4 linked regions of the Homo sapiens genome follow. The protein of the gene in region 1 purifies or fractionates together with the protein of each later gene. This does not show direct contact. Each region holds a gene or a part of one and is shown in the gene's direction. Other genes may lie near its edges.

What was found. The genes of interacting proteins can lie anywhere in the genome.
Region 2: the proteins of PACSIN1 (region 1) and MPRIP purify together in Homo sapiens (co-immunoprecipitation; 3 studies listed by BioGRID and IntAct, with this or other methods). This does not show direct contact.
Region 3: the proteins of PACSIN1 (region 1) and RAI14 purify together in Homo sapiens (co-immunoprecipitation; 3 studies listed by BioGRID and IntAct, with this or other methods). This does not show direct contact.
Region 4: the proteins of PACSIN1 (region 1) and TRIOBP purify together in Homo sapiens (co-immunoprecipitation; 3 studies listed by BioGRID and IntAct, with this or other methods). This does not show direct contact.

The regions. Positions count from the first base shown.
Region 1 is NC_000006.12:34,528,576-34,532,075, forward strand, and holds part of PACSIN1 (protein kinase C and casein kinase substrate in neurons protein 1), read left to right. Parts: intron 1-66; coding exon 67-302; intron 303-821; coding exon 822-977; intron 978-1,090; coding exon 1,091-1,266; intron 1,267-1,667; coding exon 1,668-1,788; intron 1,789-1,884; coding exon 1,885-2,012; intron 2,013-3,024; coding exon 3,025-3,212; intron 3,213-3,500. UniProt on the Homo sapiens protein: Plays a role in the reorganization of the microtubule cytoskeleton via its interaction with MAPT; this decreases microtubule stability and inhibits MAPT-induced microtubule polymerization.
Region 2 is NC_000017.11:17,048,248-17,053,548, forward strand, and holds part of MPRIP (myosin phosphatase Rho-interacting protein), read left to right. Parts: intron 1-5,301. UniProt on the Homo sapiens protein: Targets myosin phosphatase to the actin cytoskeleton. Required for the regulation of the actin cytoskeleton by RhoA and ROCK1.
Region 3 is NC_000005.10:34,662,119-34,667,419, forward strand, and holds part of RAI14 (ankycorbin), read left to right. Parts: intron 1-5,301. UniProt on the Homo sapiens protein: Plays a role in actin regulation at the ectoplasmic specialization, a type of cell junction specific to testis. Important for establishment of sperm polarity and normal spermatid adhesion.
Region 4 is NC_000022.11:37,699,339-37,704,639, forward strand, and holds part of TRIOBP (TRIO and F-actin-binding protein), read left to right. Parts: intron 1-1,967; 5' UTR 1,968-2,027; coding exon 2,028-2,141; intron 2,142-5,301.

The DNA.
Region 1 (3,500 bases):
GAGATGTGAGGGGGGGCCTCTGGGCAGGGGCAATGAGGTTCTTGTGACCTATTGCCATTCCCTCAGGCCCACAGTATGGCAGCCTGGAGCGGGCCTGGGGTGCCATAATGACAGAGGCAGACAAGGTGAGCGAGCTGCACCAGGAGGTGAAGAACAATCTGCTGAATGAGGACCTGGAGAAGGTGAAGAACTGGCAGAAGGACGCCTATCACAAGCAGATCATGGGTGGCTTCAAGGAGACGAAGGAGGCTGAAGATGGCTTCCGCAAGGCCCAGAAGCCTTGGGCCAAGAAGATGAAGGAGGTGCTCAGTGGGTGCTGCCACGGGCGGGGTGGGGTGGGCCCGTCTGATCAGAGGGTGCTGATCCCAGGGAGGGCATCTATGGATGGGTGGGCTGGGCACTGCCCTCTGGGATTGTGCCCACAGGGGAGCAGCACTGCCTTCCAGGAAAAAATATTCACAGATGGGTAGGCAGTGCCCATTGGGTAAGGAGACCCATGGGCAAAAAGGGGCACTGTCCCCAGGAAAGATACCAGCAGGGGCAGAAGAGCACATTGGCCCCTGGGTCCCCAGATGGGGCGGGCACTGCACTGCCTGACAGGAGGGTATCTGCAGGGGAGCAGGCAGTGCCAAGCAGAGACGCAGCCACAAATGGAGGAGCGCTGCTCCCGAACACCTGGAGCCAGGGCCTGCATCCCTTCTGGCTCTTAAGAGTGTGGGCTCACAGGTCCCAGGGAGTGGGCAGGGGAGGAGTTAATGGGTGACCATGTTTGCTGCTGGTCACAAATGAAAACCCTACTCCCTATTCCCCCCTCCCCACAGCTGGAGGCAGCCAAGAAGGCCTACCATTTGGCTTGCAAAGAGGAAAAGCTGGCCATGACACGGGAGATGAACAGCAAGACGGAGCAATCGGTCACACCTGAGCAGCAAAAGAAGCTGCAGGACAAAGTGGACAAGTGCAAGCAGGATGTGCAGAAGGTGCTGGCGGGCAGGGATGGCAGTAGGGGGTCTGGGGGCCCCTTGCAGAGGGTGGTGGCTGGGAGCTGCAGGCCTGGCTAGGTGTCACCCTCTCTCCACTCTGGTGCCCACAGACACAGGAGAAGTATGAGAAAGTGCTGGAAGATGTGGGCAAGACCACACCCCAGTACATGGAGAACATGGAGCAGGTGTTTGAGCAATGCCAGCAATTTGAGGAAAAGCGGCTGGTCTTCCTCAAGGAGGTGCTGCTGGACATCAAACGGCACCTCAACCTGGCTGAGAACAGCAGGTACCTGGGCATGGCAGGCACCGAGGGCACAGGCACAGCCAGCAGATGGTGTGACTGGCATGCAGGGCATCCCAGCCCTCCATCACAGTGACGGGAAGGGGAGGCAGAGCTGCAGGGGTCAAGAAGGATGAGGCTTCAAACACAGGGGCTGTTGAGTGCAAGCTGACGCACACTGGGTACTCTAGAAACACATGCTGGATGATGGGTGAATGGCTAAGGTGGGAGGGAAAAGGAGTCCACCGAGCATGCCCGGAGCTTATTCTTGCAAAGCCCACATGATTCCTGGCTGGGCAGCATGCCCAGCACCCTGCTTCCCTGAGTGGACTCTGGCCTCTCACCAAGGTTGAGGAGGGGCCATGTTGAATCTGTGCCCTCCACCTCCCCCATCTCCCTGAGCACAGCTACATCCATGTGTACCGTGAGCTGGAGCAGGCCATCCGGGGGGCTGATGCCCAGGAAGACCTCAGATGGTTCCGCAGCACCAGTGGCCCCGGCATGCCCATGAACTGGCCCCAGTTTGAGGTGAGGATATGTGGGGATGGGAAGGGGAGCCTGAAGAGGCTGAAAGGTGCCTCAGGGCATAGTCCCCCAGCCTGACTGCTCCACTGGCCCCACCAGGAGTGGAACCCAGACCTTCCTCACACCACCACCAAGAAGGAGAAACAGCCTAAGAAGGCAGAGGGAGTGGCGCTGACCAATGCCACTGGGGCGGTAGAGTCCACATCCCAGGCTGGGGACCGCGGCAGGTGAGTGCCTCCTGTGGAGCTTCCTGGGGCCAAGAGGGACCCACACTCTGGGGCAGCTGAGTTTTGCTTCAGAAGACAAGAAATGGTCTAGATCATAGCAACTATGTCTCCTCTCTAAAAGATAGTGGTAGTTCATCACTCTAAAGCAGCCGTCCCCAATCTTTTTGGGACCAGGGACCAGTTTTGTGGAAGACAATTTTTCCACGGATGGGAGCGGGGTGGTTTTCGGATGAAACTGTTCCACCTCAGATCATCAGGCGTTAGATTCTCCTAAGGAACGTGCAACCTGGATCCCTCGCATGCGCAGTTCACAATAGGGGGGTTGCGCTCCTATGAGAATCTAACGCCGCGGCTGATCTAACAGGAGGTGCAGCTCAGGCGATAATGCTCCCTCGCCTGTCACTCACCTCCTGCTGTGCTGCCTGGTTCCTAACAGGCCACGGACTGTCTGCAGCCCCAGGGTTGGGGACCCCGGTCCAGATCACAGGAACCAAGCCTCCTCTCTAAAAGATAGTGGTAGCATATCCTTCTAGAGCACCTACTGTGTGTGGCACGGTTCTATGCACTTTCCATATGTTAACTCATTCATGCTCAAGTGCGTAAATATTACCATTTTACAGATGGAGAAACTGAAACCCAGACAGGTTAAGTGACTTGCCCAAGATCACATTGCTAGTTAGTAAACCTCAGAGCCAGATATGTTGCCCAGGAGGTCTGACTCCAGGATCCTTGCTCTTAAACATTAGGTGGTACTCCTCCTCCCGGATGAAGGCTCAGATGTGCCCTGGGGTCCCCTTCAATGCCCTCTCCCTCGAGGGCTGAATAATAACGCAAATGGTCCTGCATTTAAACATCGGTTTAAAGAGCTCATGAGGGTCACCCCTCCTATGTGGCCAATCCTTGCTCTAGCCTTGGTAGAATTCGGGATCAGGGCTCTGATTAGGAGGAGCGGTTAGCCCTCGGGATGCGGTACGGGGAGACATTGAAGCTGGCTCCTTCCTCCGCGTCTCAGTGTTAGCAGCTACGACAGAGGCCAGCCCTACGCCACCGAGTGGTCAGACGACGAGAGTGGGAACCCCTTTGGGGGCAGTGAGACCAACGGGGGCGCCAACCCCTTTGAGGACGACTCCAAGGGAGTGCGCGTGCGGGCACTCTACGACTATGACGGCCAGGAGCAGGACGAGCTCAGCTTTAAGGCCGGTAGGACGGCTGGGCGGGGCAGTGCCTGAGAGAGGCTTGGGCCTGGATTGGGTGTGTGGTGGTGCAGGGGCGGTGCCTGAGAGAGAAGCTTGGGTCTGGATTGGGTGTGTGGTGGTGCAGGGGCGGTGCCTGAGAGAGAAGCTTGGGTCTGGATTGGGTGTGTGGTGGGGCAGGGGTGGTGCCTGAAAGAGAGGCTTGGGCCTGCATTGGGTGTGTGGTGGGGTAGAGGCAGGATCTGAAGACGGGTTGCGAGGATTTGCAGGGAACTAAATGGGGCGTGGCCTGGGT
Region 2 (5,301 bases), on another chromosome or scaffold:
GTGTGATTCTGCCCTTGCTGTGCCCATACCCCACTGCCAAGGCTCCAAAGCTGCGGGGGCCTCAGGTGGGAATTTCAGACATAGAGGGTGTGGGCCAGGACGAGGTCTCAGGGAAGCATTTCATCAGGTTTCCCTTTGTTCCTGTAGACATTCGTAGAAGTTCTAAGGCATAGGACTTCCTGATTTGACTTAATGTGTATCTCAGAAACAACGGGGAGATTTCGCATCCCCCCCTTGTAGAAGATCTGTAACAGGAGTTGGTGTGTTGCTTGGCAGGGAGCGTGTCAAAAATCTCAGACACACAAAATCCCATTTCAGACGGCCAAGCACCATGACAAATGCTCAGCGTTGTCATCAGCGAAACCCAAATTGAAACCACAGTGAGATATCACTTCATACCTGTCAGGATGGCTAGAATTAAAAAAATAAGAATATAACATGTTGGCGAGGATGTGAAGAAGTTATAACTCTTGCACGTTGCTGGTGGGAATGAAATGGTGTAGCTGCTGTGGAAACAGTTTGGGGGTTTCTCAAAAAGTTCAGCATAAAACCTACCACGTGAGCCAGCATTCCCACTTCTAGGTATATGCCAAGAAGAATTGAGGACAGGTGTATTCAAACAGATACTTGTATACAAATGTTCATAACAGCACTACTCACAATAGCCAAACGGCAGCAACAATCCAAGTGTCCATCCACTAATGCGTAGATAAGCAAATCATAGTGTATCCATACCATGGAATATCATTCAGTTCTAAGAAGGAGCGAAGTACTGAGACATGCCACAACATGGACGAACCTAGAAAACATTGCGCTAAGAGGCAGACATGAAAGGTCATGTGTCACATACTGTGTGATTCCATTTATGTAAAATGTCCAAAACAGGTAAATCTGTAGAAACAGAAAGCAGATCGGTTGTTGCCAGAGCCTGAGGGTTGGGTGGGCAATGTGGAATGACTGCTAATGAGACTGGGGTTCTATTTTGGGGGTGATGAAATGTTTTGGAACTAGATAAAAGTGCTGGTTGCACAGCCTTGTGAAATGTACTAAATGCCCCTGAATTGTTCACTTCCAAATGCTTCTTGACTTATGATGGGACTTATGGTGGGGGTACATCCAGGTAAAACCCATCAGACCTATCACAAAGTCAAAATTATAAGTCAGGGACTGTCTGTACAAGAATCGCTCTCTCACACACACACACCTGCCTTCTGCTCCTTGTGTCACCTGGAGTGAATATCTGATTGTTTCTAGAGTCTAGACCAAGGCTTGGCAATTTTTTTTATAAAGGACTCTTCTTTTATCCTGGGGAACTCCTTCCCCAAGCCACTCTTTCCCACCTGAATGACACAGTTGGACCAGGTCGGTGGTTTTCAAGCTTTCATCAAATCCCGGAGCCTTTTACTCAAAAGAAATCTTGTATATTTTAGGTTTTGCAGGCCAACAGGCAAAATCGAGGAGGTTGTGTAGGATATAGCCACTTAAAAATGTAAAAGCCATTCTTGGTTTTGGGGTCTTAGAAAAGCAGCTGGTGGGCCAATTTGGCACAGGGGCACAGTGTGCCACCCCTCAGACCAGCCCTGTCCTCTAGAACTGTAATGGAAGCCACATAGGAAATTTTAAATTTTCCAGCGGCTACGTTAAAAAAGTAAAAAGAGGGGCCGGGTGCAGTGGCTCACGCCTGTAATTTCAGCACTTTGGGAGGCCGAGACGGGCGGATCACGAGGTCAGGAGATCAAGACCATCCTGGCTAACACAGTGAAACCCGTCTCTACTAAAAATACAATAAATTAGTCGGGGCCGGGCACAGTGGCTCACGCCTGCAATCCCAGCACTTTGGGAGGCCGAGGCGGGTGGATCACGAGGTCAGGAGATCGAGACCACGGTGAAACCCTGTCTCTACTAAAAATACAAAAAATTAATCGGGCGTGGTGGTGGGCGCCTGTAGTCCCAGCTACTCAGGAGGCTGAGGCAGGAGAATGGTGTGAACCCGGGAGGCGGAGCTTGCAGTGAGCTGAGATTGCGCCACTGCACTCCAGCCTGGGCAATAGAGTGAGACTCCGTCTCAAAAAAAAAAAAAAAAAAAAAGAGGTGAAATTAATTTTAATTATGTTTTATTTAACCAGATATATCCAAAATACTGTCATTACACCATGCAAAAAAGTTATGACGTGCGCATTTTACGTTACAGCACATTTCAGCTCAGACGAGCCACTTTCCCACTGCTTAGTAGCCTGGTGGTGTGGCCGCTGCCCGCAGTCCTGGTGGCAGCCCTGGGGTGCCACAGGTGGTGGTGAGTTTCCTCCGTCCCTCCCTTGGGCCTTGGGTTGGAAGGTTCCTGGAGTGCTGCTTCTCTGGGACTTGTTACTCCTGTTTGTGTCCCCACTCCTCCTTGGCCCTTGGTGTCTATTGCCAACTTTTGAAGTTTCTTTCTTTGACTATCACATCTTTGATGGCTTCTTTTGGTGTGTTAGAAGTTCTCTTCTGGGCTCTGATCCCCACTCCCTGCCCAGAGGCAGAGTTTAGGGGCAGAAGGGAGGAAGGTCCTTGCCAGGGCCTCAGGCCTGTCCTGTGGGGAGCCGGTGAGGGCCGTGGTGGGCAGGCTGGCGTATCCCCCTCTAAACTGGACGTGCAATGTTCCAGTATTATGTAATTGCACCCTAGCTTTTTTCCCTGGGTTCTAGCCTGTTACCTGATCTTTTCCTCTGATTTCTCTTTCCCTTGCCACACAGAAGGACTATAGTCCAAGGCCTATGTTCTCTTCCTGACACAAATGTGCAGGGTGACCCAGGAAGGTGACTTATGTCTCCCACCTGTAAAGCGGGTGCCTGCCTTCTCTTTGCAGAGTAGTGTGCTGATGGAATGGGGAGTTCCTGAGCCCCCCATGTGGTGAGGGATGTTCCAGGAAGCACGCTGGCTGCCGCCTCTGGGGGAAGTAGCCTTTCTTTGGGCAACCTCATGTTCTTTAGCAGAAATAAAGAAATTTAACTCAGAATGTTTAAATTGTTCCCAAGCTGCCACTTAGTCTTGAAAGAGGGAGAGAGTGTGGCAGCGAGGCACAGGGGAAGACATCCTACTACTGGACATGGAGGATCATTGGGTGCTAATTTGGAAGCATCTGACCTAAGAAAACGGGCTCTTCTCTTATCCTGGGAAACTCATTCCCCAAGCCACTCTTTCTCAGCTGAATGACACCGTTGGACCAGGTGGATGGTTTTCAAGCTTTCATCAAAAGCAGTGCAGCTCTGGGCAAGGCAGCCAAAGCCTGGAGCTTGGCCTCCCATCCTGGGGCGGGGTGGCGGGGGAGGGCCTTGGGTCATCTCTGGGGCCATTTGGGGCAGGTTCGAAAACTCTGCCCTAGATTTTGTGCTTTTTCCAGTTTTAGCAATTGAGGCAGTCTTACAGCTGCTCTGGAATGGAGCCCCCATGCCCTACCCAGAGCTCTCAAGGCATTGTCACTTCCGTTGGGGGCAAGAGCACCTAGGGGGTTGATTCACTGACATTTTGTCTCTGGAAGCTGGAACTGAAATCTTCCAAACCACTCACTGGTTTTCTCAGTCAGGGTCATCCTAGTTCACATGAAACCACAGCCTGGTTTTTGCCTGGAGCCTGTAACCCTTCTGGCTCCTTCCCCTTGGGCGCAGCTTGGCGGTTGCATGCTGTGCCAGAGGTGGCCCTGGTGTCAGAGCTGCTTTGCAGCGAGACTCTGAGTGGATGGGCCTGCCGGATCCTTTGAACCTCTACCTACTATATTGTGTCATAGCCCGTGATTTCACACAGACCTCAGCAGGCAAGGGTGGCCAGCAGGGCTGGTGGCAGCAAGGCCTCCCTCGGAGGAGGGGACCCTGAGTTTTCAGAGTGGTTGAGCGGCCTGCCCAAGGTCACTGAGCTGCTCAGCAATGGGGCCGTGATACAGATTTCAGCTCCATGAGGCTCCCGTGCCAGAGTCCACCCTGGCTCCAGACTCCACCCTGGCTCCAGACTCATCCTCCCTGTCCTTGGGAAGGCCACTTTGCTTTGTAAACTCCTTAGTGTTTTTGTTTGGCCCCGGGGCAGATGGGTAGTAGGGAGATTGGTATATTGCAGTGCTGCAGAATAAATCACAGCTGTTTCCTGGACTTCTAGTTCCTAGCCCTGGGAAGAGGGACCTGCTGGGGCTGTCTGCACCTGCCCTCCCTGCCTTTCCCCCACATTATGCAGGTGAGGGATTGTCTTCAATTAGCAGATGGAGCCGCCGAGACCTGGAGAGGTTCAGCAGAGGTTCAGCGACCTGCCTAGGTCACAGGAAGTCCAGCACGATTTTTTCCAAAGTCCTGTTTGGCCACCTTGTCTCTAATAAGTGTTAACCTTTGCTATCAGGAACAGGGCCTTGCCCCAACTTGGACTCCTTAGTTCTTGAGTGTGTGGTGGGGCGTGTGTGTGAACGGTGCAGGCTGTTGTGCAGGGCATCGCCCAGATCTTCACCTCTCCTCAGCCTCGGGGTGCCCCACATCCCCAACATGGGCTACTGGCCTAGGCAGCAGCCACACCTTTGGCACAGCTCTGAACAGGAAGCACAATTTTTTCCTCTGAAAGAGGAATTCAGAATCAGGAAATAGCTTTGTCCTTGATCTCTGTAGGTTCTGAGGCACTGGATTTAACAGACCCACAAGCAACCGTGGCGCACTTTCCACACAAGGTTTCTGACCTCCTCGTGGTCCTTCCCATAGATAAAGGGGCCAAGGGAAGGGGGAGCAGCTGCAGGGAGCCCCAGCTGAGCCAGAGAAAGGGGCCATGTCTCCTGGGTCTCCTGATGCCATACCCAGAGCCTCACTATCAGGACTGGGTGAGCCACTTGAGGCTCAGGAGCCTCAGGGCCGCGGGAGGGGTGGGTCAGGGCATTTGCATGGCTTCTGCTTGGGGACCTGCTCTGACCTAGAAATCTGACACAGTCCCACTTTTCATTTCAGTGCGCCCAGGCAAGGGAATTGGAATGGTGGCGAGCCCAGATTTGAGTTTCCATTCTAGCTCCATTTTCCATGCTAATGGAGCAAGTTACTTAGAGCTGAAGCATCTATGCCCCTCATCTGAAAACTGGGGGGTTATAATAATAGTACCCATGGCTTTGGGTCCTGATGAGGATGCAGGAAGATGCTTCCAAAGTCCTCAGCAACCGCAGGATCTGTGGCAAGGGCAGAGTTTGTAAATACTGGGTTATATGGTGGGTGCTTAGTAAATGGGGTCCGTTTTATCAGCAATAAACCATGTAGTATGGAGCTGTGTGTGGGACACGGATCTTGCCCTTGGGAAGCTCTCACTTAG
Region 3 (5,301 bases), on another chromosome or scaffold:
TTTTGTTGGATTGTTGCAGAGTGTACATCATCATTGCCCTGACTTTGTGCTTTTATCTATGAGGATTTTTTTGGAGGGGGAGGAGGGATGTATTTTTCATGATGGAAGGAAAATGAGAACCTTAATCTGAAGATGTTGGAGCAACTAATATGTAGAAAGGTCCCTAGATATACTCTAAGAATTGCCACATCGTACAGTCCTTAATTCATGGCACAAAAAACATTCACTATTATAGCACTAATGCATTGTTTCAGTAGAAGCCAACTGAATTTTTTCTACCTTGCATGATGAGTATAGGAGTTGACAAAACAAAGCTAAATATATCAGAGGCCTCTTGGATGCATTTTATATGGTGATAGGGAAAAGGAGTCTAGATTTTTTTTCCCAGTGAACTATATTAGGTATACGATACTGATGATATCCTTTAAAACATTACTAGAATACTGAAGTACACCATTTACATTTCTTATTGTATCCTCTGTAATAAAATGATATTGAAAGAAATCAGTATATTATGGATCCAGATAGGGTTAAACTTTAAGCTGAAAATCATAAACATAGAATTATATGATTATTAGTAAAATGTTGCACAATTTAAACAGATTTTTTTTTTTTTTTTTTTTTTTTAGACACAGAGTCTCACTCTGTTGCCCACGCGGGAGTGCAATAGGGTGATCTCGGCTCACTGCAACCTCCGCCTCTCAAGTTCAATCAATTCTCCTGCCTCAGCCTCCTGAGTAGCTGGGACTGCAGGTACATGCCACCATGCCCGGCTGATTTTTGTATTTTTAGTAGAGATGGGGTTTCATGTTGGCCATGGCTGGCCAGGCTGGTCTCGAACTCCTGACCTCAAGTGATCCACCTGCCTTGGCCTCCCAAAGTGCTGGGATTACAGGTGTGAGCCACCATGCCCAGTTTAAAGATATTTCTTCCCTTTGTAGTTAGTCATGAGCTGAAAAGTACAGGTGGTTCAACAAAAGATAAAAATTGTTCATCAAATGTCAATTTTCTAGCTCCAGCCATCTACAATGAACAAAAAAATTAGCCTCGTCTTTGACATCAGGCCCACTGAGAGATATCAGCAAATCTAATCAGTATTTTAAAAAGTAACTTTTGGCCAGGCATGGTGGTTCACACCTGTAATTCTAGCACTTTGAGAAGCTGAGGCAGGAAGATCACTTAAGCCCAGGAGTTAAGAGACCAGCTTGGGAAACATGGCGAAACTTTGTCTCTAAAAAAATACAAAAATTAGTTGGGCATGGTGGTGCATTCCTGTAGTCCCAGCTACTCAGGAGGCTGAGGTGGGAGGATCACCTCAACCCATGAGATCGAGGGTTGCAGTGAGCCAAAATCTTACCACTACACTCCAGCATGGGCAACAGAGTGAGACCCTGTCTAAAAAAATAAATAAATACAAATAAAAAGTAACTTTACTGACTTAACCATGTGTTTAAAAACAAAGCAGTACCTTCTTCTGTTTAACTGAAGGAAGCATGCCTTGTTCTTCAATTTTATATTCTATGTGTCCAGTAGAGTATCTGCCACACAGTAGGAGATTAACATCTCTCAACTACTCCTGCCTCAGAGGTCATTAAGCCCCTCATGGCGGTCATCAGATATAGAGTTGTCCTAGTCTAGAGGAGAATTAAACAATAATCAAAAGGCAGAAATCAGCAACAAAGTGCGAAGTCGAAGTTCAGAAGATGTGAAAGAAACACTTTTCCTCCTTATCCACTCTTTGCGGAAGTTTGTGCATTGTGTCTTGATTGATTCACCAGCTGGGTTTTTGTGATCAGTGTCACCTCATCTAACCTTACTTGCGATCTAGGCCAGTCCCTTCTGTAGTGAATGGCATTCACTGGAAATTAGTCTTGCCGTATAATTCCATGACCATATGTCACACCGGGGCAAGGGGACACCTTTGGGAAGTTCTTCATGATTTGCTAATCCCTGCTTCTAAATAAGCAGAATCTAGTTGTGAGAAAAGGTGGTTGTAGTCCAAGAAGCTTACTGTACAGTGGAAGGAAATACATGGGCTCTTTTTTTTTCTTTCCTTATTTATTTATTTATTTTCTTAAATTGACATTTAGGCCAGGCACAGTGGCTGCTGCCTGTAATCCAAGCCCTTTGAGAGGCTGAGGAGGGCAGACCACTTGAGCTCAGGAGTTCAAGACCAGTCTGGGCAACATGGCACAAAACCCCATATCTACTTTAAAAAAAAAAAGTATATTTATATTGCAGTGAGCCAAGATCACACCACTGCACTCCAGCCTGGGTGACAGCGAGACACTGTCTCAAAAAAAAAAAAAAAAGGAAAGAAAAAAATTGACATTTAGTGAACACCAAAGCTTATTATCAAGGAACCAGTTTCCCTTACACTTATTTATTATATTACCTTTTAAAGCTCAACTTAATTTTTCATATCCATTTTAGGTATTGTTATCGATAAGATATTCTGTTTTCTTATGATCTAGATAAGTTCAATTTGCTTAATTAATTTATTTATTAAATTTTTTATTTCCATGGGTTATTGGGGAACTGGGTGTTTGGTTACATGAGTAAGTTCTTTAGTGGTGATTTGTGAGATTTTGGTGTACCCATCACCTGAGCAGTATACGCTGCATCCTATTTGTAGTCTTTTATCCCTCACTCCCTTCCCACCCTTTCCTCCTGAGTCCCCAAAGTCCATTTTGTCATTCTTATGCCTTTGCATCCTCATAGCTTAGCTCCTACTTATGGGTAGGAATGTACGATGTTTGGCTTTCCATTCCTGAGTTACTTCACTTAGAATAATAATCTCCAATCTCATCCAGGTCACTGTGAATGCTATTAGTTCACTCCTTTTTATGGCTAAGTAGTATCCATCATATATATATATATATGTGTATATATATATATATGTGTATATATATATGTATATATATGTGTATATATATGTGTATATATATGTGTATATATATGTGTATATATATGTGTATATATATGTGTATATATATGTGTATATATGTATGTGTATATATATACACATATATATGTGTGTGTATATATATATATACACACATATATATATGTATATATATACACACACCACAGTTTCTTTATCCACTCATTGATTGATGGGTATTTGGGTTGGTTCCACGTTTTTGCAATCAGTTTGCTTAATTTAGCTGTTCTTTTCAAAGAGATAATAACTCTAAAACTAACAAGCAGCATCTACCTCTTTTCACTTTCACTAAGTCTGTCCAGTTCCTTTTGCTGGCTGAAGTGATAGACACTCAGAAAACAGGCAGTGTTAACTGATGGAGAATAAAAGGCCAGAGAAGCCTCCTTTTGCACTAGGGCAGCACAGAGTAAAGTGTTTTCCATTTTTTTTTCTTTTTTTTTTTTTTTCTCTAAGAGGAATCCATTTGCAAACCAGAGAAAACCATCCAGCAGTGATTCTTAAATATTCGTGAGGCATAGATGGACACTTGCAAATCTGATGGGGGTTTTGGACCATTCTTCCTTGGAGAAACTGATGTATGTACAATGATGCTATAAATTCATAATTTTTATCAGTCTCATGAGTTTCATGGAACTCCTTGCCCTAAGGCCATTTATAAACCTCCTTGGAATACCCAGGTTAAGAACCCACAATGACCACCTCTCAAAGTTTGAGAATACAATTACAAGGGCTCTATTTTTCTATCATGTGCCGCTATTCCCCACCCCACTGCCACCCACAGTTCGAAAACCTATCATACATGAGTGAAAAGTAATAATTGTGGGTTTTATACTCTCAATTTGAAAACTAGTCATCGGTTGCTATGTCAACCAGTCAACATACTATTGACCATTTTTAGGATCTATTTCTATTGGATGTAATAAAATGCAATTTATATGCAATGAAAAGGTGGTTTTGTAATATGACTATTTCACAGAGACCTGATGAATTCTAAGGATGAGTCTTAAGTTTCTCACCCCAAGGAGTTGGGTCTGTTCTGTCTTCAGCTTTTGGTGGCAGCAGTTTCCCAGTTTTGCTGTTAACAGGAAGGAATGGAGATGTCCCAGGCCCCACCTGACAATTCTTGTAGTCTCACAGGAGATGTCCTGCGCCCCACTTGACAATACTCCTAGGCTCACAGTAGGTGTCCCAGGCAACCCCTGACAGTACTCCTAGGCTCACAGATGTCCCGGCCCCCCGACAGTACTCCTAGTCTCACAGTAGGTGTCCCAGGCACCTCCTGACAGTACTTCTAGGCTCACAGGTAGGCCTTTGGCTGCTCAGCCCAGTGGGGGAAATATCCCCAACTGGCTCTTCACTTTGCCTTTTTCTTCTTGGCCCCCCAGCCTGATGTGGCTGTCTTGATGGGGACCTGAAGAAGACAGGGCCACACTTTTAGTTGAGGAACTGACCCTCAGCTGGAAGCCTGCTCTTCTGGAGGAAAACATGCTTCTGTGGGAAGTATTGTGCATGGGGGAAGGGACTGCCACGTCAGCTGTACTCAGAACTGCTAATATCAGCATTCACCTTGGGTGACGTCCTCAAGCCATTTCAGTCAAAAACCAAGCAAAAAGGGCTGTGGATCTGCCTGTAACAGGCTGCCTGCCTGACCTGACAGAAGCTCTTCAGATGGGTCATTGTAATTGACTTGAGCACCTTCTCTGCCATAGGCACTTTGCTGCTGGACTGTCCTCGAATAAGGTCAGGGCTGGCCGTAGTCATTGTCAGGTTTCCCATTACCAGTATGTGTTGATGGGATAATTGGGTATTAGAAGATCTCTGGATGAATGACAAGCCCTGCCCTCGGGGACTTAAGAGTTTTAGCCAGGTTAGATATGGTCGCAATCTGCCACAGTACAAGGCGACTGTTAGTGGTGGGAATGGGGTGGCGGTGGTGGGAGGGAATTCTTTTCACAGATGAGGCTGAGGCCTAGAGAAATGGCCCCTTGGAAAGGGACAGTTAATGAGAGGCAGAGATGGATGAGACCCTGGTACTGGCTGCTCAGCACTGCACTTCTACACATTATACTTTTCTGTTTCTCTCACAGGTCAACAGTGACCTTGAGACTCCTGTATGTAGCTAATTATAATTGTTATTTGGAATTGATATCATTTTTCTATTTTGAGAAAATGTTCACGTTTCTCTTTTTTTCTGAGACAGGATCTCGCTCTGTCCCTTAGGCTGGAGTGCAGTGGTGCAATCTTAGCTCACCGCAGCCTTGACCTCCTGGGCTCAAGCAGTCCTCCCACCTTAGCCTCCCTGGAGCTGGCACTACAGGTGTGTACCACCACTCCTGGTGAATTTTTGTATTTTTGTA
Region 4 (5,301 bases), on another chromosome or scaffold:
TGATCCAGTGCTCCTCACTTCCACCTCCGAGAGAGCAGGGACACACACAGCCCTGGATTTGAATCAGCCACTGCGACCTTCAGTGACCGAAGGAACCTCTCTGAGCCTTAGTTGCCTGATCTAAAATTGGCATTAATTTGATCTACAATGCAGCTATAAGACAAGGACACTCAAACTTTGGGGCGCACTAGAATCACCTGGGGAATCACTTTTTTTTTTTAAGACAGAGTCTCACTCTTATCACCCAGGCTGGAGTACAGTGGTGCAATCTTGGCTCACTGCAACCTCCGCCTCCTGGGTTCAAGTGATTCTCCTGCCTCAGCCTCCCGAGTAACTGGGACTACAGGTGCATACCACCATGCCTGGCTAATTTTGTATTTTTAGTAGAGACAGGGTTTGGCAATATTGGCCAGGCTGGTCTCGAACTCCTGACCTCAGGTGATCTGCCCGCCTCGGCCTCCCAAAGTGCTGGGATTATAGGCGTGAGCCACTGCGCCTGGCCAGGAATCGCTTCTTTATTTTCATTTTCATTTATTTATTTATTTATTTATTTATTTTGAGATGGAGTCTCGCTCTGTTGCTCAGTCTGGAGTGAAGTGGCGTGCTCTCCGCTCACTGCTACCTCTGCCTCCCAGGTTCAAGCGATTCTCGTGCCTCAGCCTCCCAAGTAGCTGGGACTACAGGTGCGTGCTACCACGCCCAGCTAATTTTTGTATTTAGTAGAGGCGGGGTTTCACCATGTTGGCCAGGCTGGTCTTGAACTCCTGGCCTCAAGTGATCTGCCTGCCTCAGCCTCCCAAAGTGCTGGGATTACAGGCGTGAGCCACCGCCCTCGGCTGGAATCACTTCTTTAACATGCACAGCCCCAGACCTCAGTCTCTTGGAGATTCTAACTGTGTGAATTGGGAGAGAGAAAGGGGAATCTAGATTTTTTTTTTTTTTTTTTGAGATGTGGTCTTGCTATGTTGCCTAGGCTGGAGTGCTGTAACTATTCACAGGTGCAGTTATAGCACACTACCACCTCAAACTCCTGGGCTCAAGAGATCCTCCCACCTCTGCCTCCCGAGTAGCTTGGACTGCAGGTGCACACCATCTTACCCAGCTGAAATCTGCTTTTTTTTTTTCTCAGTGCAGTGGCACAGTCATGGCTCACTGCAGCCTCGACCTCCCAGACTCAGGTGATCCTCCCAACTTCAGCCTCCTGAGTAGCAGGGACCACAGGCCTGCACCACCTTGCCCAGCTAATTTTTGTATTTTTTGTAGAGACGGAGTTTCGCCAGTTGCCCAGGATGGTCTTGAACTCTTGGGCTCAAATGATCCGCCGCCCGCAATGGGCCCAGCTGGAATCTGCATTTTTTTGTTTTTTGTTTTGAGATGAAGTCTCACTCTGTCGCCCAGGCTGGAGTGCAATGGCGCAATCTTGGCTCACTGCAACCTCCGCCTCCTGGGTTCAAGCCATTCTCCTGCCTCAGGCTCCCAAGTAGCTGGGATTACAGGCACGTGCCATCACACTTGGCTGATTTTTGTATTTTTAGTAGAGACAGGGTTTTACCATATTGGCCAGGCTGGTCTCGAACTCCTGACCTCAAGTGATCGGCCCACCTCGGCCTCCCAAAGTGCTGGGATTACAGGCATCAGCCACTGTGCCTGGCCTGGTATCTGCATTTTTATGAACAGCCCAGGAGGGTGTAATGCAGAGTCCTTGGCGTGCACTTTCAGCAACACTGCAGTAAGGACTAGAAATCGCACATCAAATGCTGGCAGAGTGCCTGGTGCTTAGTAGGTGCTTAGTGAGTGTTTGTTGAGTGAATAAATGAACAGGAATGGATGGAGAACAGGAACCCAAAGGAATGGATGAGTAACCTTATTTCCTTGGTCCTTGTCTGGAAACTGGGGCAACTGGGGCTGGGGTTCAGGTGAGTGGCCAGCCAGTCATCTGGTCTTTGCCTCCCCCTCATTTTTGCCAGGCCTCACATAGACGGTCAGCCATTGGATCATAGGAACTGCCCTGGCCTGACTCACCCAATATGGAGGAGGTGCCTGGGGATGCCCTGTGTGAACACTTTGAGGCCAACATACTTACCCAGAACCGCTGTCAAAACTGCTTCCACCCTGAGGAGGCCCATGGAGCAAGATACCAGGTGGGCCAGTTTTCCACGTGGTTGGGGTGGTTTGTGATGGGGGCATGGGTGAAGGACTGGGCCTGTGGTGTCCGCTAACTCGCAGTTGAACCCAGATGCTGGACTTCCTCCTGTCGAGAGCCTCGGTTTTCCCACATTGCAGGGAAGTGGTTGAACCATGTGAATGTTTCACAATCTTCAGTCACTTTCCTCCTGCTTATATGATACGATTGTTACCATAGCCTTATCTAATCTGTTACTTACTTTGTTATTCTTTAAATCAACATCTTTTTCCCCTTCTATTGAAACAAAACTTCACATCATCAACACAAGTAGAAAACTAGAATTACTTCCTGTTAAGAAGAAGAGGTTAAGAAGAAAGGTAGAGGCTGGGCACGGTGGCTCACGCCTGTAATCCCAGCACTTTGGGAGGCCGAGGTGGGTGGATCACCCGAGGTCGGGAGTTTGAAACCAGCCTGGCCAACATGGTGAAAATTAGCTGGGCATGGTGGTGCATGCCTGTAATCCCAGCTACTTGGGAGGCTGAGGCAGGAGAATCACTTGAACCTGGGAGGCGGAGATTGTGGTGAGCCGAGATCGCGCCATTGCACTCCAGCCTGGGCAACAGAATGAAACTGTCTCAAAAAACAAAACAAAACAAAACAAAAAAGAGAAGAAAGGTAGAAAAAGAAAAAACAAAACAGAAATGTCGTTACACCCTAACTTGAGAGTGTTTTCTTTTTCTTTTTCTTTTTTTTGAGACAGAGTCTCACTCTGTCGCCTGGGCTAGAGTGCAATGGCAATGGTGTGATCTCAGCTCACTGCAATCTCTGCCTCCTAGGTTCAAGCGATCCTCCCGCCTCAGCCTCCCAAGTATTGGGATTACAGGTGCCTGCCACCATGCCCAGCTAATTTTTGTATTTTTAGTAGAAACGGGGTTTCGCCATATTGGCCAGGCTGGTCTTAAACTCCTGACCTCAGGTGATCCACCCGCCTCAGCCTCCCAAAGTGTTGGGATTACAGGCGTGAGCCACCGCGCCTGGCCTCGAGAGTGTTTTCTATGGAAGGCTCTGAGCTTGCATCCTGCTGTCTCTTTGTCAAAAAGGGAGATTAGCAGATGTTAGAGAGATGTTAAGAATACACCAGCATCATCTAGAGATTTTCTTTCTCTCTCTCTTTTTTTTTTTTTTTTTTTTTTTTGGAGATAGGGTCTTGCTCTGTAGCACAGGCTGGAGTGCAGTGGTCCAACCTATAGTACATGGCTCACTGTAGCCTCGACCTCCCAGGCTCAAATGATCTTCCCACCTTGGCCTCCTGAGTAGCAGGGACTACAGGCACATGCCACCATGGCCAGCTAATTTTCTTGTAAAGATGGGATCTCACTATGTTGCCAGGGCTGGTCTCAAATTCCTGGGCTCAGGTGATCCTCCCACCTCAACCTCTGTAACTGCAGGGATTACAGGTGTGAGACACTGCACCTGGTCTCAAGATTTTCTTCTTCAAGTTATTGAAGGAGTGAAGAAGAATCCTTTTTTTTCTTTCTTTTTTTTTCATTTGAGACGGAGTCTCTCTCTGTCGCCAGGCTAGAGTTCAGTGGCTCAATCTCAGCTCACTGCAACCTCCGTCTCCTGGGTTCAAGCAATTCTCCTGCCTCAGCCTCCTGAGTACCTGGGATTACAGGTGCCCACCACCATGCCCAGCTAATTTTTGTATCTTTAGTAGAGACAGGGTTTCACCATGTTGGTCAGTCTGGTCTCGAACTCCTGACCTTGTGATCTGTCTGCCTCGGCTTCCCAAAGTGCTGGGATTACAGGTGTGAGCCACCGCGCCTGGCCGAGATTTTCTTCTTCAAGTTATTGAAGGAGTGAAGAAGAGTCCTTTTCTGACTTTGTGATTGATGTAGTCTGCTGCCAAGCCCCCATGCATGTAAACACAGAGCACCTGATACACACGCAATGAGAAACCTGGGACTCACGAACCTCCGAGGGCCCTTCCAACCTTGACCACCATGGCTTCGTCATTCCCATTGGGGTCTGAAGGTCCTCTTTTTTTTTTTTTTTTTTTGAGACAGAGTCTCGTTCTGTTGCCCAGGCTGGAGTACAGTGGTGCGATCTGGGCTCACTGCAAGCTCGGCCTCCCAGGTTTATGCCATTCTCCTGCCTCAGCCTCATGAGTAGCTGGGACAACAGGCACCCGGCACCACGCCCAGCTAATTTTTTGTCTTTTTAGTAGAGACAGGGTTTCACCATGTTAGCCAGGATGGCCTCGATCTTCCTGACCTCGTTATTCGCCCACCTCGACCTCCCAAAGTGCTGGGATTACAGGCATGAGCCACCGCGCCCAGCTTCTACCAGTCTTGATACCTCCAATAATAGCTCTCTTGTGCTCACCTGCAAGTTCAGGTTCAGGGAACAGATGCCTGGGAGTCCATCTTTCATGCAAATGACTTTCTTCCAGTGGTTGGGAAGATGGCAAGAATGGAACAGGAGAGCCGTGGATTCAGGCTCGTCTGAGTTCTAGTCTCAATCCCACCATTTCCCACCCGAGACCGTGGGTCAGCTCACAAATTCATACGTACTGAATAGGTGCTTAAAATGTGCCAGGCATTATGCTAGATGATGGGGAAATCATGATAAATCAGAAAGGCACAGCCAGGCACAGTGACTCACTCCTGTAATCCCAGCACTTTGGGAGGCCAAGGTGGGTGGATCACTTGGAGTTTGAGACCATCCTGGCAACATGGCAAAACCCCATCTCTACAAAAAATTTAAAAAATTAGCTGGGCGTAGTGGGATGCGGCTATAGTCTCAGTTACTCAGGAGGCTGAGGTGGGAGAATCACCTGAGACTGGGAGGCGGGGGCTTCAGTGAGCCGTGATCGCATTACTGTATTTCAGCCTGGGTGACAGAGTTGGACCCTGACTCAGAACAGAACAGAACAGAACAGAACAGAACAGAACAGAACAGAACAGAACAGAACAGTACAGAAAACAGGGAGAAGGAGGGGAAGGGGGAGGGGAAGGGGGAGGGGGAGAGAGAGGAGGAGAGGAGGAGAGAGGGACACATCCCTGGCTTGTCTTCATGGGGCTTATATTCTAGCAAGAGAAATGCACATGATTATTTAATCTTGGTTGTGATAAATGTATAAAGGAACAGTAAGTGGCATGAAGGTAAAGGATAGG